Regions from separate parts of the Homo sapiens genome. Here region 1 is linked to region 2. Evidence: fine-mapped expression QTL. A gene starts in region 2. The other region holds a variant in brackets. All regions are shown on one strand. Distances are between the middles of the regions.

Region 1 (8,319 bases), 43 kb before region 2:
AGGCTGGTCTTGAACTCCCGACCTCAGCTGATCCGCCCGCCTCAGCCTCCCAAAGTGCTAGGATTACAGGCGTGAGCCACCGCGCCCGGCCGAGGCTCAGTCTTAATCACCCCAATTTTACAGATTTGGAAACAGAGGCTCTGAAAGGTCAAGTGTGTTTTGGGGGACTGCTTGGGCCAATGTTTAGGGGGATCCTTTCTCCTTCCCAATCTTGCTCTGTTGCCCAGGCTGGAGTGCAGTGGTGTGATCTCAGTTCACTGAAACCTCCATCTCCCGGGCTCAAGCAATTCTCCTGCCTCAGCAACCTGAGTAGCTGGGACCACAGGTGCGCGCCACCACACCTGGCTAATTTTTTTGTATTTTTGGTAGAGACAGGGTTTCACCATATTGCCCCAGCTGTCTCAGACTCCTGACCTCAAGTGATCTGGCTGCCTCGGCCTCCCAGAGTTTTGGGATTACAGGCGTGAGCCACCGCGCCCAGCCAAGTGTTTTGTTTTCACAGTGAGGCAGGAAGTGTAAGGTTCAGAACTCCAAGTGGCAGGTGCAGCAAAAAGAGTGATTCAACCTCACTCCTTTTACTTTCTATTTGAGAGGGCTAAGGCATAAGTAGGTATCTCCCATGCAGTCTCTCAGCCATTACAGCCTATGAACTTCGCTGTCTGAGCGGAACAGGAGACTCTGTCCTGCCTAGGAAGGGCAGGCACAAAAGAGGTTGTCCTGTGGGAGGGAGGGATGTGTCTCCTTCCATTCTGAGATGATGGACGGGGCTGACACCCATAGGCACCACTTCCCTTTCTGCTCAGGGCTCCTGTCATTGTTTTTTTGAGACAAAGTCTCGCTCTGTCGCCAGGCTGGAGTACAGTGGTGCAATCTCGCCTCACCATAACCTCCAACTCCCCAGTTCAGACGATTCTCCTGCCTCAGCCTCCCAAGTAGCTGGGATTACAGGCGCACGCCACCACTCCCAGCTAACTTTTGTATTTTTAGTAGAGACAGGGTTTCACCATGTTGGCCAGGATGGTCTCGATCTCCTGACCTCGAGATCTGCCCGCCTCGGCCAGCTCCTGTCACTTCTAACAGAAATAGCATAAAGTATCCAGCAGGAAAAGTGCACACAATATCACAGAAAAGATAGGGACTGCCAGCTCATTTCCCACCTCCCCTTGTAACTGCCATAAATTCCTTCCTAAATGGTGAAAGCCGTTTTTGCAGTAACTTGTGTTCCGGGCCATGGGTTTTCAAGTCCATGTCTTTTTCTCAATGAAGGATGGTTCCTTCCCTGGCACAGGGCCACAGCAAGGGTGGCATGGCCCAGCAAGGCTGAGTTTTTCCACCGGGCCCAGCACAATCGCTGAGGTCCCAGTACAGGTCTTGGGGTCTTGTCTGTGTCTCCCCTCCCCTCCTGTCCTCTTGTCTGCGTCTTCCCTCCCCTCCTGTCCATGGGTGCTGCCTCCACACCTCAAGGCCTCTCTTACATGCTTCACAGATGGATGCCTGGTCCCATGTGGGTGTGGCTCGAAGGTCCCTCTTGCTGCTAGAGTGCTCTCTTCATGAGTGGCAGTGATACTCAAGTTTGTCAAACAGACACATTTCTGACAAGTGCACAAACTGGGTTTTGGGTTTTTTGAGACAGGGTCTTGCTCTGTTGCCCAGGCTGGAGTGCAGTGGCACAATCTCAGCTCACTGTAGCCTAGACCTCCGAGGCTCAAGCGATCCTCCCACCTTGGCCTCCCAACTACCCAGGACTACAGGTGCATACCACCATGTCTGGCTAATTTTTGTAGAGACAGGATTTCACCATGTTGCCCAGTCTGGTCTCAAACTCTTGGGCTCAAGTGATCCACCCTCCTTGGCCTTCCAAAGTGCTGGGATTACAGGTGCGAGCCACCACGCCTGGCCAAATTGGGTTTTTATAAATGAAAATTGTGCTTCCCCAGTGGAACCCTGATCTCTCAGGGGTGTGTTTTTTAAATTTGAAACATATTTTTTTTTAGTTTCTCTGTCCCATTTTCCAAGCTGTCTGCTTACAAGAACCACAGAGAATGCTGGCAAGCTTGTCCGATCCCTACTATAGCACAGTGAAATAAACTGAGCCCAGAGCCAAGAGCCCAGAGAGAGGCCTCACCCAAAGTCACACAACCAACAACCACAGCTCCCCCTCAAGGGAAAGAGGATGGGGAGGGGAAGCTATGTAAGCACGTGTCTGGAAGCTCAGAAGCCAGCACTGGCCCCTTTCCCATGGGGCTGGCACAGGAGGATGGGCAAGCCCCAGCTGCACAGGGCTCGGCCCCTCACTTCCCAGCTGCACAACTTTGAACAAGTCCCTCAACCCTCCCGATCCATCCGTAAATTGGGTGAATAATTTCCACCTTGGCTGACTTCACAAGGAATCCAGGCAAGAATGGGAATGAAATAGCTTTGTAAAGGTGAGGGTGAGGACATGAATATCAAGTCCTTAGTGAAGATAAGCGGGCTCAGGAATGGAGATCAACAGTTGTGTCCATGGTTAGCTGCACAAAGGCCTGTCTCCCCTGCAGGCGCCAGGAGCGACAGCGCTTTGCTGAGTACCAGGCGGAGCTGCAAGGCATCCAGCACAGGGTGCAGGCCCGGCCCTTCCTGTTCCAGCAGGCTATGCAGGTGAGGCTGGCACCTGGGCAAGCACATAGCTGCCCCCTGTGAAGAGCTGGCTGAGTGGGTAGGGAAGCAGGATGCGAGTAGGTCCCTGCAGATAGGATCCCAGGGCTGCTGCCCTCTGGAATCCCTGGGACCCCCTCAGTAACCCGATCCCCACCTTGCCCTCGGCAGCCCTGGTGCAGAGCAGGAAGCCGTCTTCTCTCTCCTCAGGCCAATGCCCGGCTCACCGTCACTCGGCGCTTCTCCCAGGTGCTGTCAGCACTGGGGCTGGATGAGGAGCAGCTGCTGTCTGAGGCAGGAAAGGTGGACAGAGAGGGCACCCCCAGGAAACCCAGGTGAGTCTCCCCGTCAGGTCAAGAACTGACTCTGCCATGCTGCTGCGGGAAGGGGCGCCCACACCAGCACTCTGGGCTCTGGAGGGCCTCCCCCAGGACAGGCAGAGAGCCCAGAGGAAGGCAAGGCCAGGGTTGTCATTCCTACTTCTCAATGAGGAAACTAAGGACCTGAGGGGAAGGGCCTTCTTTAAGGACGCAGGAGCGAACAAGCAGCAGAACCAGTCTGGGACTCTGCAACCATCTGAGCGGCCACACACCAAGTCCCTCATTAGGGGCTGGCACCACCACGCTGGTCACCCCATGCCTTAGAATAACCTGGTACAGAGCAGCGATTATGAAGCCCACTTGACAATAAGGAAAGTGAGACTCGAGAAGAGTCACTTTGCCCAGGATCACACAGCAAGCCGGCACTGAAGCAGGGTTTGAAGCCACATTGTCAGTGGTTTCCTTGGGCATGGGGGTGGGAGCTGCAGAGTCAGGGGCCTCTATCTGTGTCTTGAAGGAGCCACAGGTCAATGGGGGTGAGAATGGAGCACTCTCCTCAGAGGCCCCCAAGGACAGAACCCACCGGCAGCCAGCCTGACAGGCACTACAACCCCAGCCTGGACCCGGAGTGCAGTCCCTGAGATAAAATTAAAGGCTTTATGGCAAACACAGTATGAGATTTCTGGTGGTGGGGGTGGTGGAAGCTACGGGTTGGAAGTTGGAGGTGGCAGGTGGGTGGGCAGCAGGCTTAGCTCTGTCCCCGCACCCCCTCCCCACCAGGAGCTTTGGCTCTTTTGGTTCCCCCCACCCAGTACACACAGCCCCTTCTCTGCTCCTGAGGAGTGGGGACATCTCAAAGAGCAAGAGCTGTGACTTCTCCACCCCATCTCCAATGTATATGTTGGGTCCTATAAATTCAAGCATGAATAAGATGAAATGACTCCTGCCTCTGAGGACGCCCAGTGAGTGGGAGAGGGGGTGGATCCTTAAAGGGGCGCATACAACATAGCCTAACACATGCTGAGTTG[T/C]GCCACACAGGGAGCCACAGACTGAGCAACCACTGGGTGAGGGGAGGGGTTTCAGGAGAGATTGGGATTGTGTGCACTGCGCTTTTTTTTTTTTTTTTTAAGACAGAGTCTCGCTCTGTCACCAGGCCGGAGTGCAATGGTGTGATCTCAACTCACTGCAACCTCTGCCTCCCAGGTTCAAGCGATTCTCCTGCCTCAGCCTCCTGAGTAGCTGGGACTACAGGTGTGCGCCACCACACCCAGCTAATTTTTGTATTTTTAGTAGAGACGGGGTTTTACCATGTAGGCCAGGATGGTCTCGATCTCTTGACCTCGTGATTCGCCTGCCTTGGCCTCCCAAAGTGCTGGGATTACAGGCGTGAGCCACCGCGCCCGGCCTGCACTGGGGTTTTAAGTCCCAATAGTTTTAAGTTAGGGCTGGTCTCCTCAAGAAAAAAACTCATACACACAGATGTGCCACATTTTGCATTCAATTTCAGGGGTTCCAGGGATACACTGACGCCCATGTGGAGCTCCTAAACAATCTTAACAGTTCACGGGGCCAGGTTTTAAAAATCCAATCCAGGGCCAGGCGCAGTGGCGCATGCCTGTAATCTCAGCACTTTGGGAGGCCAAGGCGGGTGTATAGCCTGAGCTCAGGAGTTCGAGACCAGCCTGGCCAACATAGTGACCCCACCCCCTACCCCCGCTCCCCACCAACCATCTACAAAAAAATACAAAAATTAAAGGGGCGTGGTAGCGTACTCTCGTAGTCCCAGCTACTGGGAAGGCTGAGGTGGGAGGATCACTTGAGCCCAGGAGGTCGAGGCTGCAGTGCGCTGTGATCACGCCACTGCACTCCAGCCTGAGCAACAGAGTGAGATCCTATCTCAAGGGAAAAAACAAAACAAAACAAAACAGGGAACGTGGGAAGGAAGCGTTCCCTGACGATACTGGTTATAGCGGGTCTGAAGCTGGGCTGTGGAATTGGAGATCTCGGGAAAACAACACCCGTTGGAGCCACGACCCTAGGAGTCCACTAAGCGAGCGCCCATTGTAGGAGGGAGGTGTCTACGGAAAGACCGTGAGGTAGTGAACACCCCGTTGCCGGTGAAGTGCAAGCGCAGGGAGGCCGGGGAGGAACTTAAAGCCACGAAGACACTGACTTAATGGGCTCTAAGTCCTTCCAGTTCTGGGATCCCACCTCCGGGTTAATTCCGCTTCCCTTGAGGAGCGCATGCGCAATGGGACCACTCGCTCAAAGAACCCACCCGACCCGAGACGGCGCGAATGTGCAGTCGAGCGCTGATCCCGGCCTTCCCATGAGCCTCTGGGGCAGGCTCCAAGGCGAGCGACGGAAGCAGCCGCTCTTAGTTTCCGGCAACACGACAGCGGCTGCCGAGCGACCCGGAAGTATTCCCATTTTGCGTTGTCTGGGCTCGGCGGCAGCCGGGCTCGGAGTGGACGTGCCACTATGGGGTCGTCCAAGAAGCATCGCGGAGAGAAGGAGGCGGCCGGGACGACGGCGGCGGCCGGCACCGGGGGTGCCACCGAGCAGCCGCCGCGGCACCGGGAACACAAAAAACACAAGCACCGGAGTGGCGGCAGTGGCGGTAGCGGTGGCGAACGACGGAAGCGGAGCCGGGAACGTGGGGGCGAGCGCGGGAGCGGGCGGCGCGGGGCCGAAGCTGAGGCCCGGAGCAGCACGCACGGGCGGGAGCGCAGCCAGGCAGAGCCCTCCGAGCGGCGCGTGAAGCGGGAGAAGCGCGATGACGGCTACGAGGCCGGTGAGGAGGCGGGGCCTGCGCAGGGGGCGGGTCGGGCGGGGGTCCCGGAACGCGTGGGTCTGGGTGTGCGCGCAGTGTCAGCGAAGCTCTTCAGGCCAGGAAACCCCCAAGCTGTTTACCAGCTCTATTAAATAGTCTTTCTACGGGATCCCTTGAGCCCAGGAGTTAGAGGCTGCAGTGAGCTGCGGTCCCGCCAGTGTACTCCAGCCTGGGCAACAAAGCGAGACTCTGTCTCAAAAAGAAAAAAGTCTTTCTACGGTTGTTTAGGATTAGAGGTTGACTTTCTCCACTCAGCTGCTTGAGGACAGAGGGCTTCTGTTTTCCTCAGTTGTCTGGTACAATCAGATTCTCAATAAATATGTTGAATGAGTGAATGAAGTAGTGTCAGCATATACAGAGGCAAGAAAAACCTGGTATTGGACGAATCGTGTAGGGCGCATGGTAGAGAAATGAGGGAGTAAGATAGACAGGGATGTGAACACAAAGGACCCTGTACTGTAGTCTCTGTTAAGAACTGTAGATTGTCTTGAGGATAGTAGGGAGCCATGGATGTGAGTTGAGGAGTGAGTTGCTCAGATCCGTATTTTGTAAACATCACTGGATTGAGAATTTAGTCAAAGGTAGTCAGGACTGGAGACCAGGAAACCAGGAGGGCTATAGGCCAGGGGAGGGCTGATGGTGGCCTGCACCAAGGCAGCAGCAGTGGGATTGAGAGAAGTGGACAGGTTGGAGAGGTGTTTTGGAGGAGGAATGAACAGAACTCAGCACTTGTATGAGGGTGGGAAGAAGGAATGGAGGATGACTCCTTGAATTTTGGCTTGAGCAGCCAGATAGGTAGTGGGTGTCATTTCTACTGAAATTGAGGAGTAGGGAAGAGAAGCAGATTTGGAGCGGGGGTGGGGGGAGATAGTTCACTTTTGGGGTTGTCAAGGTTGATGGTAATGGGGAAATCCAGAGTTTGGACTGGATAAAGCCATTGGGAGTCAGTATCTGGGTGGCCAGTGAAGCCCCTGAAAGACTGTGACATGAGAAGAGGGGGTCAGGACTAGAACCTGAGAAATGCCCTTATGTTAGTAGTAGGCAGAGAAAGATGTTACCAAAAAAAGGAGACAGAGTAACCAAAAAGGCAGGAAAACCTTTGTGTCATGGGAACTTTGGGAAGAGAGTATTGTTAGAAGGAGGGAGCGATCAGCAGTCCCACATACCACAGGAGATCAAGCAAAACCAGAACCGAAAAGAACCCACTAGATTTAGAAACGAGGAGGCTGGTGACCTTGGGGAGCCTGGAGAGGTTGGGATCCATGGCCCAGGTGGAGAGAGAAGCCTTTAAGATAAAGGAGAAGGTAGGATGCAGGATGGGAATGCAGGAAAGGAAGAGTTTTTTTTTTGTTTTGTTTTGTTTTTTTGAGACAAAGTCTTGCTCCATTGCCCAGGCTAGAGTGCAGTGGCACGATCTCAGCTCACTGCAAGCTCTGCCTCCTGGGTTCAAGCAATTCTCCTACCTCAGCCTCCCGAGTATCTGGGATTACAGGTGCGCACCACCGTGCCTGGCTAATTTTTATATTTTTAGTAGAGACGGGGTTTCACCATCTTGGCCAGGCTGGTCTTGAACTTCTGACCTCGTGATCCATCTGCCTCGGCCTCCCAAAGTGCTGGGATTACAGGCATGACCCACCATACCCGGCCCAGACCTTGTCTGTTAAAAATGAAAGAAAAAAGTAGAGGGCAGAGTGGTGACTACAGCAGTTTGGATGTCTTGGGTCAGGAAAGGAAGGTGCACAGAAGAGGCAGGGCTCTGAGACTGGACTCGGGCAGAGGAGCTGCTGGGGAGCTTGGGTGGAAGAAGCTGCTGTTTTCTGGTGTTTCAGCAGGCCCAGGTGCTGGTGAGGGGCCCTCATTTTTGTTCCTGCAGCTGGAGCCAACGATGCTGGCTTCTTGGCCCTGTGTTCAGCTCCTGAGCCATGCTTCTTCTTGTTCCAGCTGCCAGCTCCAAAACTAGCTCAGGCGATGCCTCCTCACTCAGCATCGAGGAGACTAAGTGAGTACTGTCTCCCTTGTTTCTACTTTGTTTTTCTAAGAGAGGTGGCTCTGGGGCCAGCACGGGGGAGGCTTTCTCACATGAAAGTGTGCTAATCAGAGTTGGAAAGATTGTTTAAATCATCTTAGCCAACAGTTGACTTATAGAAGAGAAAACTAAAACCTAAGAGTAAAGTGGCATTCACTGGTTAGACGCAGACCAGGCTGGTGCCCATGTTTCCTGCTTTGGAGGCCAGGGCCCTTCCCAGTGTCCTAGGCTGCCTGGGGCAGACTTTGTGTTTGGGACCACTCACTCCCACCCTGTTTCTCCTCTTGTCTGTCTGGAAATGCACATGGCACCCTGTGTCTTTAATAGCCCCTAACACTTGTATCTCTTGTTGTCAGCAAACTCCGGGCAAAGTTGGGGCTGAAACCCTTGGAGGTTAATGCCATCAAGAAGGGTGAGTATGGGGCTGAGGATAGGGTTTGGGGGAAAGAGGCCATCTGAAGGGGTCTTTGAAGAAGGTGGGGTTAGAGGGCAGGTTCAGCACTGTT
Region 2 (8,277 bases):
GCTTAAAGTCATTCAGCTTTAAGTGGCAAAGCCAAGATTTTAACCCAGAGCATCTGACCTTCAAACCCCATTCATAACCATGTTATACCACATGCTTAGGAGCTCTCAACAGATACCCTATGTAAGGAGGAAAGAAGGCTCTATTTTTCCCTCAAGGCACCAAAGCATGAACCCCTTATTTTCCATGTACCCCACCCCAAGGCTTGTTCCTCACCTGTTCCTGTTGTTGTGTTTCTCAGCCACTTCAGAGAAGGCCTCAGGCCTATGCCAAGAGATGAGCCAAAGTCAGAAAGGACAAATAAATTTCTCACAAAAGAGCTGCTTCCAGCTGTGTCTGCCTGGGATGCCATGACCTTCCCTCCCCTAATTCCCAAGCTAGGAAGGCAATGCCTCCAGAAGCCAGACAGCCAATGATCAAGGGGACCACCTACCAAAACCCCTCCTTCTGCAGAGAGCGCACGTGGTCCTTGCAGAGCACAAACGAGATTTCAGCCTTCACCTTTTCTCCCTCTTCAATGGGGTCAACAATGAGAAAGTCCCCTGTAGATAAGAAGAGAAAAGGCAAAGTCAGGCCTGCTTGCAATAAGGAAAGCCAAAGCCATAGGAAGGGGTTCTATCTCCTAGAGAGGGCTGCCTCTCTCACCTCTCTCTTTTTTCTTTTTTTTGAGACAGGGTCTTGCTCTGTTGCCCAGGCTGGCAAGCAATAGCATGATCATAGCTGACTGCAGCCTCCACCTCCCAGGCTCAAGTGATTCTCAGGCCTCAGCCTCCTGAGTAGCTGGGATCACAGGCACGTGCCCAACTAATTTTTTTCTTTTTGTAGAGACAAGGTCTCATTATGCTGCCCAGGCTGGTCTCAAGCGATCCTCCCATCTCAGCCTCTCAAAGTGCCAGGATTACAGGAGTAATCCTCTCACCTCTCTTGATCCAGATGTTCTTGCGGTATTTGGAGGGCATGCTCACCAGGAAGCGCTGCCCTTGGGCTGTCTCCACCTCATGCAGATTGTTCCCTGGGGTCCTGAGTACCTGGTTCAGGAGAGACCAAGAATCAGTCTCATCAGTCAGATCAAACACCCTCTCAGACACGCTGCACCCTACCCCCACCCCAGGGGCCCTCCAGGGCTGCAGGGGTGGGGAGCAGAACAGCTTGTGCCCCACGCCACTCACCCTGACAATCTGCTGCTGGTCGGAGGGCACTATGTGCTCCCCTAGCACCTCCTTCACCACATGCTTCCTCTTGGTGGCCTGAGACATGCTGAAGTCGTCCCACACTGGTTAGGAACGAAGAGACTGTCAACTCCTCCTCCTGAGTTCCTTGGATGGCAGGCTCAGAACCCAGGACTGTTCTGAAGATGGGGAGGGGCCTTTTACTGAGGGGTGACACGGTGTCTTGGTTAAGAACATGGGTTCTGAAGTCTAACTGCCTGGATTCAAATCCTACCTTGGTTTATTTCCTAACTATTCAACTTCTCTAGGTCCCAGAAAAATAACAGCTAACTCAGCACTGTTACAGTATGGTATGAGGCCACCACTTCTCCTGTTGGCCTTCTTAGTTTCTCTCCAACCTCCCCTTTTCCCTAGTTTATAAGACAGGAGAAAAGGGAGAAAGCAAAAAGTTGGAAAGAAACAGAAGTAAGATAAATAGCTAGACGACCTTGGCACCACCACCTGGCCCTGGTGGCTAAAATAATAATAATATTATTAACCCCTGACCAAAACTACTGGTGTTATCTGTAAATTCTAGACATTGTATGAGAAAGCACTGTAAAACTTTTTGTTCTGTTAGCTGATGTATGTAGCCCCCAGTCACGTTTCTCACGCTTACTTGATCTATTATGACTTTTTCACGTAGACCCCTTAGAGTTGTAAGCCCTTAAAAGGGCTAGGAATTTCTTTTTCGGGGAGCTCGGCTCTTAAGACACGAGTCTGCCGACGCTCCCGGCCGAATAAAAAAACCTCTTCCTTCTTTAATCTGGTGTCTGAGGAGTTCTGTCTGCGACTCGTCCTGCTACAACAGAATGGGACAATACAATGCATGTCATGTAAAAGTAACTCCGGCCGGGCGCGGTGGCTCACGCCTGTAATCCCAGCACTTTGGGAGGCCGAGGTGGGCGGATCACGATGTCAGGAGATCGAGACCATCCTGGCTAATACGGTGAAACCCTCTCTCTACAAAAATACAAAAAATTAGCCGGGCGTGATGACGAGCGCCTGTAGTCCCAGCTACCCGGGAGGCTGAGGCAGGAGAATGGCGTGAACCCGGGAGGCGGAGCTTGCAGTGAGCCGAGATCGCGCCACTGCACTCCAGCCTGGGCGACAGAGCAAGACTCCGTCTCAAAAAAAAAAAAAAAAAAAAAGTAACTCCTATAATCTTAAGTACTAGTGTAATATAAAACTATACGCATGCTCCAGAGAAGTCATCCTGGCAACCTCTCTGGAAGGAGTTTGAAATAAACCGTATCTTTCTCAACACGCTTGTACACCCCAAGTCTAGCATAGTCACACAACAGAGAAGTTCAGTCTGGCAACACACTACAGCCGGAGACAAACTAGGTGGCCACCGTGATGGTTCAAGCCAGGAACTAGTTAATTAAAGGTTGAGGTGAGCAGGCTTGTCTGCGACATTTGCATATTTCTGACTTGCGTACTTAGAAGACGAAGGCCAGTACCCTTAAGACTGATGGTTTCCGAAAGAAACACTGTCGTCTCTAGTTGCTGTCCTCCTTCCTCCTCCCTGTCTATCCCGGAGAAAAGACCCTCAGAGAAACACCCACACTTAGTCTCTGGCCCTCGGCTCCCAGGAACGCTGCCGGAGCAACACCGCCGTCTAGGCTGGACGCTGAGAGAGGATCGTCCACGACTCACTTCAAGGCTGAACCAAGAAAACACAGTAAAGGAACTTGCCGGCGGCCGCGACGGTAGCGTCAGTTAGAAATCAGGTCTCCAGTGTTCCCAGTTCCCACCAGTCCAACTGCGAGGAGTGCGACGTGAGTCTGAGTCTGATCCCTCCGAAAACCGTACTTCCGGCGCTGTCTCGGAGGCCTCCCGTCCCCTCCCTTGTCCGTCTTCTAACTCTTCCCCACGCCAGGTCCGTCAAGCCTAAGTCCTTGAGTTCCGGGTCCGGGCAGCAGAGAAAGGAAGTCCTCTCCCTGGAGGCCTATCTCCCTCAGAACTGCGCGAGAAGCGAGACCTTAGAAGGCAGGGCTTCCCGCGAAGGACCGGAAAGGAGCGCCTACTAAGGACGCCGTCGAGGTCCGGGGCGCCTCAACTCTATAGCTCTAACTGGCTAGAAGTGCCCAACGTGGAATGTTTCTTTTTTAAAGGCGGCTCTTGAAGCGACCCGGAAGCGGAAGTGGAAGAAAGTTCTAGTGGCTTGAGGTATCCGCAGGAGCGGCCGGGTGGCGGGAGGAACCGTTACGGGAACTGAAGTTGCGGGTGAGCGCCAGCCGCGGAGCAGGGCCCTGATTGGAGGCCAGAGGGGTTGCGGGGAGAAGGGGAGGAGAGGGGTCGCAGGCGCTGTGGCGGGCCCTGGGGGAGAGCTTGGCCGCGCTGCGGGGAGGGGGCGGGGTGCAGCGCGTGGGAGCCGGGCCGCGGGAAGGGGCGGGCCGCAGCGGCGCGCGGTGGGGGCGGAGCTGGGGCGCGGCGTGAACCCCGCGGGCGGGGAGCGGGTGTGCGCAGCGCTAGGTGTGCGCTTCGCCCTGTAGGTAGAGAGACCCTTTGGTTAGCTTTCCACGCCAAGTGGCCGTTCCAGGCAGGCAGTGTCGTCTTGGTTCAGCCAAGGTCACAGAGGGAGTGATAGCTTCCGCGCAGCCCTGGCTACGGACTCTGGGCATCTTTCCACTGCCCCGCTTGCGCCACCTGTTAGGCAGGATCGTTTTTCCTCTGGGGCAAGATCAAAATCCAGGTCCTGCAGGAAGAAACTCCTCTTAAAAATAGTAGGGAAGAGTCTCCCTGGAACTGTTTTCTCCTTTCAGGATGAGGGGGATCGAGCAAGCCACTGTAACCCCTGGCTTGGCTTCCTCTTACTATGAGATTGCTCGTGGGCCCTTAGAAGTTCCAGGTCTTCAGCCCTAATCTGCCTTTTTTTTGGGATTCCTAGATTAAGCCTGATCAAGATGACAACCTCCCAAAAGCACCGAGACTTCGTGGCAGAGCCCATGGGGGAGAAGCCAGTGGGGAGCCTGGCTGGGATTGGTGAAGTCCTGGGCAAGAAGCTGGAGGAAAGGGGTTTTGACAAGGTGTGGGGTGGCTGCGTGTACCTAGTGCAAGCGGGGGGTGGAAGGGAAGTGATTCCATCTGCTGGGGGATGGACAGTAAGGTATAATCTGAAGAGGCTGCCAGAGCCTGGGCACCTGGTGGAGAGGAGAGGGGGGCAAAACCCGCGCTGCTTCCTGGGCTTGTGTGCTCTGAATGGCACAGGAATGGCTGTCTTGCTCTTATCTCTCACTGAGCACTGAGCAGCACGCTCCTTCCTTTTCCCTGTTTTGCAGGCCTATGTTGTCCTTGGCCAGTTTCTGGTGCTAAAGAAAGATGAAGACCTCTTCCGGGAATGGCTGAAAGACACTTGTGGCGCCAACGCCAAGCAGTCCCGGGACTGCTTCGGATGCCTTCGAGAGTGGTGCGACGCCTTCTTGTGATGCTCTCTGGGAAGCTCTCAATCCCCAGCCCTCATCCAGAGTTTGCAGCCGAGTAGGGACTCCTCCCCTGTCCTCTACGAAGGAAAAGATTGCTATTGTCGTACTCACCTCCGACGTACTCCGGGGTCTTTTGGGAGTTTTCTCCCCTAACCATTTCAACTTTTTTTTGGATTCTCGCTCTTGCATGCCTCCCCCGTCCTTTTTCCCTTGCCAGTTCCCTGGTGACAGTTACCAGCTTTCCTGAATGGATTCCCGGCCCCATCCCTCACCCCCACCCTCACTTTCAATCCGTTTGATACCATTTGGCTCCTTTTTTGGCAGAACAGTCACTGTCCTTGTAAAGTTTTTTAGATCAATAAAGTCAGTGGCTTTCATGACTGGGCTTTGTGCACTGAAAAGCAAGTGGGCTGGGAGTTGCCTCTCCTTCAGGGACTGACCATGTTTCCCTCACTCCTTATCAGTAGAGACCGAAACTGGCAGCTTCCCTTCCACTCCCAGAGGGCAGCCACCCTAGCCATGTAGGCCTCAGGCAGGTGACTTTTGTCTCAATCCCCGAGTGATGTGGGAGAGGGTGTGGGTGGATCTTTTCCTGGGAGCCAGATGGACTGTGCTCCAGATGTCAGTTAAGTCAACAGCTGGGCTAGGCAGCACCTGGTGGAAAAGTCAGTGGGAGTCAGAGGTACCAGACAGGGTGGGCCGGATGTGGGTGAGAGTTCACCTGCCAGTCATCATCTGCTCTCCCGGCCTCTGTAAGGGTGGGCAGGGTGCTTGCCATCTTCCATGATCTCTTAGGGAGGAGAAGGAGCACAGGCATCACAGCTGGAAGGATGTGAGGGGAGTACACCTCAGTACATTTTAGTCCTGTTCTTTTTGTTTACTTTTTAACTTAATAGGGACAGGGCCCTGCTCTGTTGCCCATGCTGGCCTTAAGCGATCCTTAAGCCTCCCAAAGCGCTGTGACTATAGGTGTGAGCCACCATACCCGGCCAGCCCTATTATTTCTTGAACACTTAGTATGAACCAGGCTTGAAGCTAAAATCTTTGCAAACATTTTTTTCTTTCACAGTAATAAATATTTTCTCCTTTACAGGTGAGGAAATTTGAGGCTCAGAGAGGCTAATTTGCCCATGGACTTGCTCCTGGGAAGTAGCCAGACTGGAACTCAAACTAGCTTGGAAACCCAGGGACCCGGCCATGTGTTCCTTGGTCATGTGGCTTAGCCTCTCTGAGCCTCAGTTTCTCCACTTGGAAAATGAGGTGGTTGTAGGGAAAGGATATTTGCAGCAGTATAAACAACAAAGGACTATTTCCATAGCACATACAGAATTGCAATCAAGAAAAAAGCGGACTGGCTGGGCGCAATGGCTCACGTTTGTAATCCCAGCACTTTCAGAGGCCGAGGTGGGTGGATCACCTGAGGTCAGGAGTTCAAGACCAGCCTGGCCAACATGGTGAGACCCCATCTCTACCAAAAATACAAAAATTAGCCGGGTGTGGTGGTGCACGCCTATAATCCCAGCTACTCAGGAGACTAAGGCAGGAGAATCGAACTTGGGAGGCAGAGGTTGCAGTGAGCCGAGATCACGGCCATTGCACTCCAGCCAGGGTGACCAGAATGAAACTTTGTCTCAAAAAAAAAAAAAAACAACAGAAAAATGGGTAAAAGATCTAAGACGGCCACAGAAGAGGGTTCCCTCCCAGTAAATAAGCACAGGAAAGGTGCTCCATATTGCTAGTAATAAGACATCACATGCCATTAACACCCACCTGACTGGCAAACACTTTTAAGTTGGACAATACCAAGTATTGATGAGATAATGAAGCAACAGGAACTGATACCTAGCTGGTGGGAGTATAAATTGGTCTAAACAATTTGGGAAGACAGTTGGGTGTTATTTAGTAAAACTGACACGCCCTGTGACCAAGCAGTTCCACTCTCAGGACTGTGCCTTGAAGAAAGTCCCGAACACCTGCAGCAGGACCTAGATGAGTTTGCAGCTGCATTGTTGGGAGCAACGCTAGCGGCTGTCAATACTAGAGTAGATAAATAGGCACTCATGCCACCGGACACTGGACGGAGGTAAAAATGAACAAATGATAGTTGTGTACAACACGAATCTCAATAGCAAATGAAGACAAACAAATTCTTAGGAATTCCTACATAGATGGTAAAACTAGAAGGAAAACAAAGGAAATGATTATGGTAAATAGTAAAGGAAAAAGTCTACAGGGATTATCTTTGGGGGAGGGTGTGGAAGGGCTTAAGGGTAGGCTTGGCCTACCCTGACCTGTGTTTCTGACCTATGGGGTGGTGGTACAGGCATTGACCAAAAGTGTATGTTCTGCGCCCTTTTCAGTGTATTCGCTACATCTCAACAATAGAAAGATAACAGGAAAACCAAAAATAAAGACCTGAGGCTGGAACGATTGAGTGAAAGGTCAGAAACTAAATTGTTATTTGTAGGGATGAGAGTTCTGTGCAAGGCTGGGACTGGAAAGTGCGAGTGGCCCAGCTTGAAAGGGACACCAGGTGACTGCAGCAGGGCCCAGCTTGTGCTTCAAGCCGCTTCCTGGGAGGCTGCTGGTCTGAGTCCCGGCTGAGGTGGTCACGAGGGCTCTCTCTTGAGTTTCAGACTGTTTCTGATGTCTTCCCGGCTAAGTCCCCTCAGCCTTGACCCTCATGCTATGATGCTGTCGCAGGCCTTGTGTGCTTAGGTGGGGGCTTTGCAGGGCTCCGGCCTCACCACACCTCAGTCCTGATGCTGCCAGCTTGTTGCTGGTGCTCTGTGAGGTCATGGAGACTCCTCCTCCATGAAGCCCTTCCCTGGGCTCCTGCCCACGCTGGCCTCCTGGTTTGGCCTCGCCTGGTGGCACTGGGACCCTGCTGGAAGCCTGCGGCTCATGCTGTCTGCTTTATTTCCTTGTTGTCTGCCTTTCCCGGCTCACCCACAGGCTTTGCCATAGAAGGGACTGGAACCTGCCTTCTCACCTCTCCCTTGGGGCACAGGCAGTGCATATACCAGGTGGCAGGCCACAAACCCTTTATCAGGACTCCATATTGCATCCCACACAAGTTCTTGGCTCTGTCCTGGGACAGCAGTAGACAAAGGGCATCTAGAATGTACCTTGTGACAGTGTGGCCTCTCAGATCCAGCCCGACTCAGCCAGCAGGACAAAGGGACCACGGCTTGGAATGCTGGCGCAGAAAGCAGACCTGGCTGGTGAGGGGTATGAGTCAGGTTGTCTCAGTGTCAGCCCGTGGTGTCCAAGAGGACATGCCTGGCCACCCACTAGCCTGGGACATAGGTGGGCCCAGAAATCAGCAAATACTGACCCCATCCCCCCATCACACCCAGCCAGAGCTTGACCCCCTCAGCTGGTCTAGTCATGAGTGCTCAGAGCCAGCCTAGAACTTCGTGTGAACCCAGCCCATGCACTCTGGGGTGCTGAAGGGCTCCTGCTGCCCCCAGAAAGGAAGTAGGGGGAGGCTACCTGGACCACCACAAGCCCTGCCCCCGGCAGCCTGCTGAGCATGGAAGGCTCCCAGCAGGTGCTTGTGACTGTTGATCCCTTTCCAGGCTGGCCCCTCCCTGTGGGGACCAGGGCTCTTTCCTGTCACTCCCAACCTTGACTGGTGGCA

Alleles and levels. Positions count from the first base shown, and alleles are read on the strand shown. Sizes are in standard deviations (SD) of each study's normalised expression.
For the expression in fibroblasts of the gene that starts at base 3,022 in region 2, T is the low allele of the variant in region 1 and C is the other (small effect, 0.35 SD a copy in GTEx).

The links. PIP is the estimated chance that this variant, and not a neighbour inherited with it, causes the effect.
Region 1: its variant is fine-mapped to the expression of EIF1AD in fibroblasts (GTEx, PIP 0.99).

The regions. Positions count from the first base shown.
Region 1 is chr11:65,956,346-65,964,664 of GRCh38, forward strand. TSGA10IP (testis specific 10 interacting protein) reads left to right here. Exons shown (of 8, transcript NM_152762.3): 6 at 2,538-2,637; 7 at 2,845-2,969; 8 at 3,472-3,621. The coding sequence ends at 3,595. SART1 (spliceosome associated factor 1, recruiter of U4/U6.U5 tri-snRNP) reads left to right here and starts at 5,389. Exons shown (of 20, transcript NM_005146.5): 1 at 5,389-5,748; 2 at 7,729-7,786; 3 at 8,170-8,225. The coding sequence starts at 5,436. RefSeq lists an enhancer at 5,247-6,034. The variant T/C (reference allele first, on the strand shown) is at 3,983.
Region 2 is chr11:65,999,136-66,007,412 of GRCh38, forward strand. EIF1AD (eukaryotic translation initiation factor 1A domain containing) reads right to left here and starts at 3,022. Exons shown (of 6, transcript NM_001242481.2): 1 at 2,775-3,022; 2 at 1,168-1,370; 3 at 918-1,026; 4 at 432-540; 5 at 215-262. The coding sequence starts at 1,254. BANF1 (barrier to autointegration nuclear assembly factor 1) reads left to right here and starts at 3,368. Exons shown (of 3, transcript NM_003860.4): 1 at 3,368-3,435; 2 at 4,100-4,238; 3 at 4,491-5,014. The coding sequence starts at 4,116. The coding sequence ends at 4,637. RefSeq lists enhancers at 1,119-1,618, 2,720-3,089, 4,097-4,903 and silencers at 3,390-3,729, 8,223-8,277.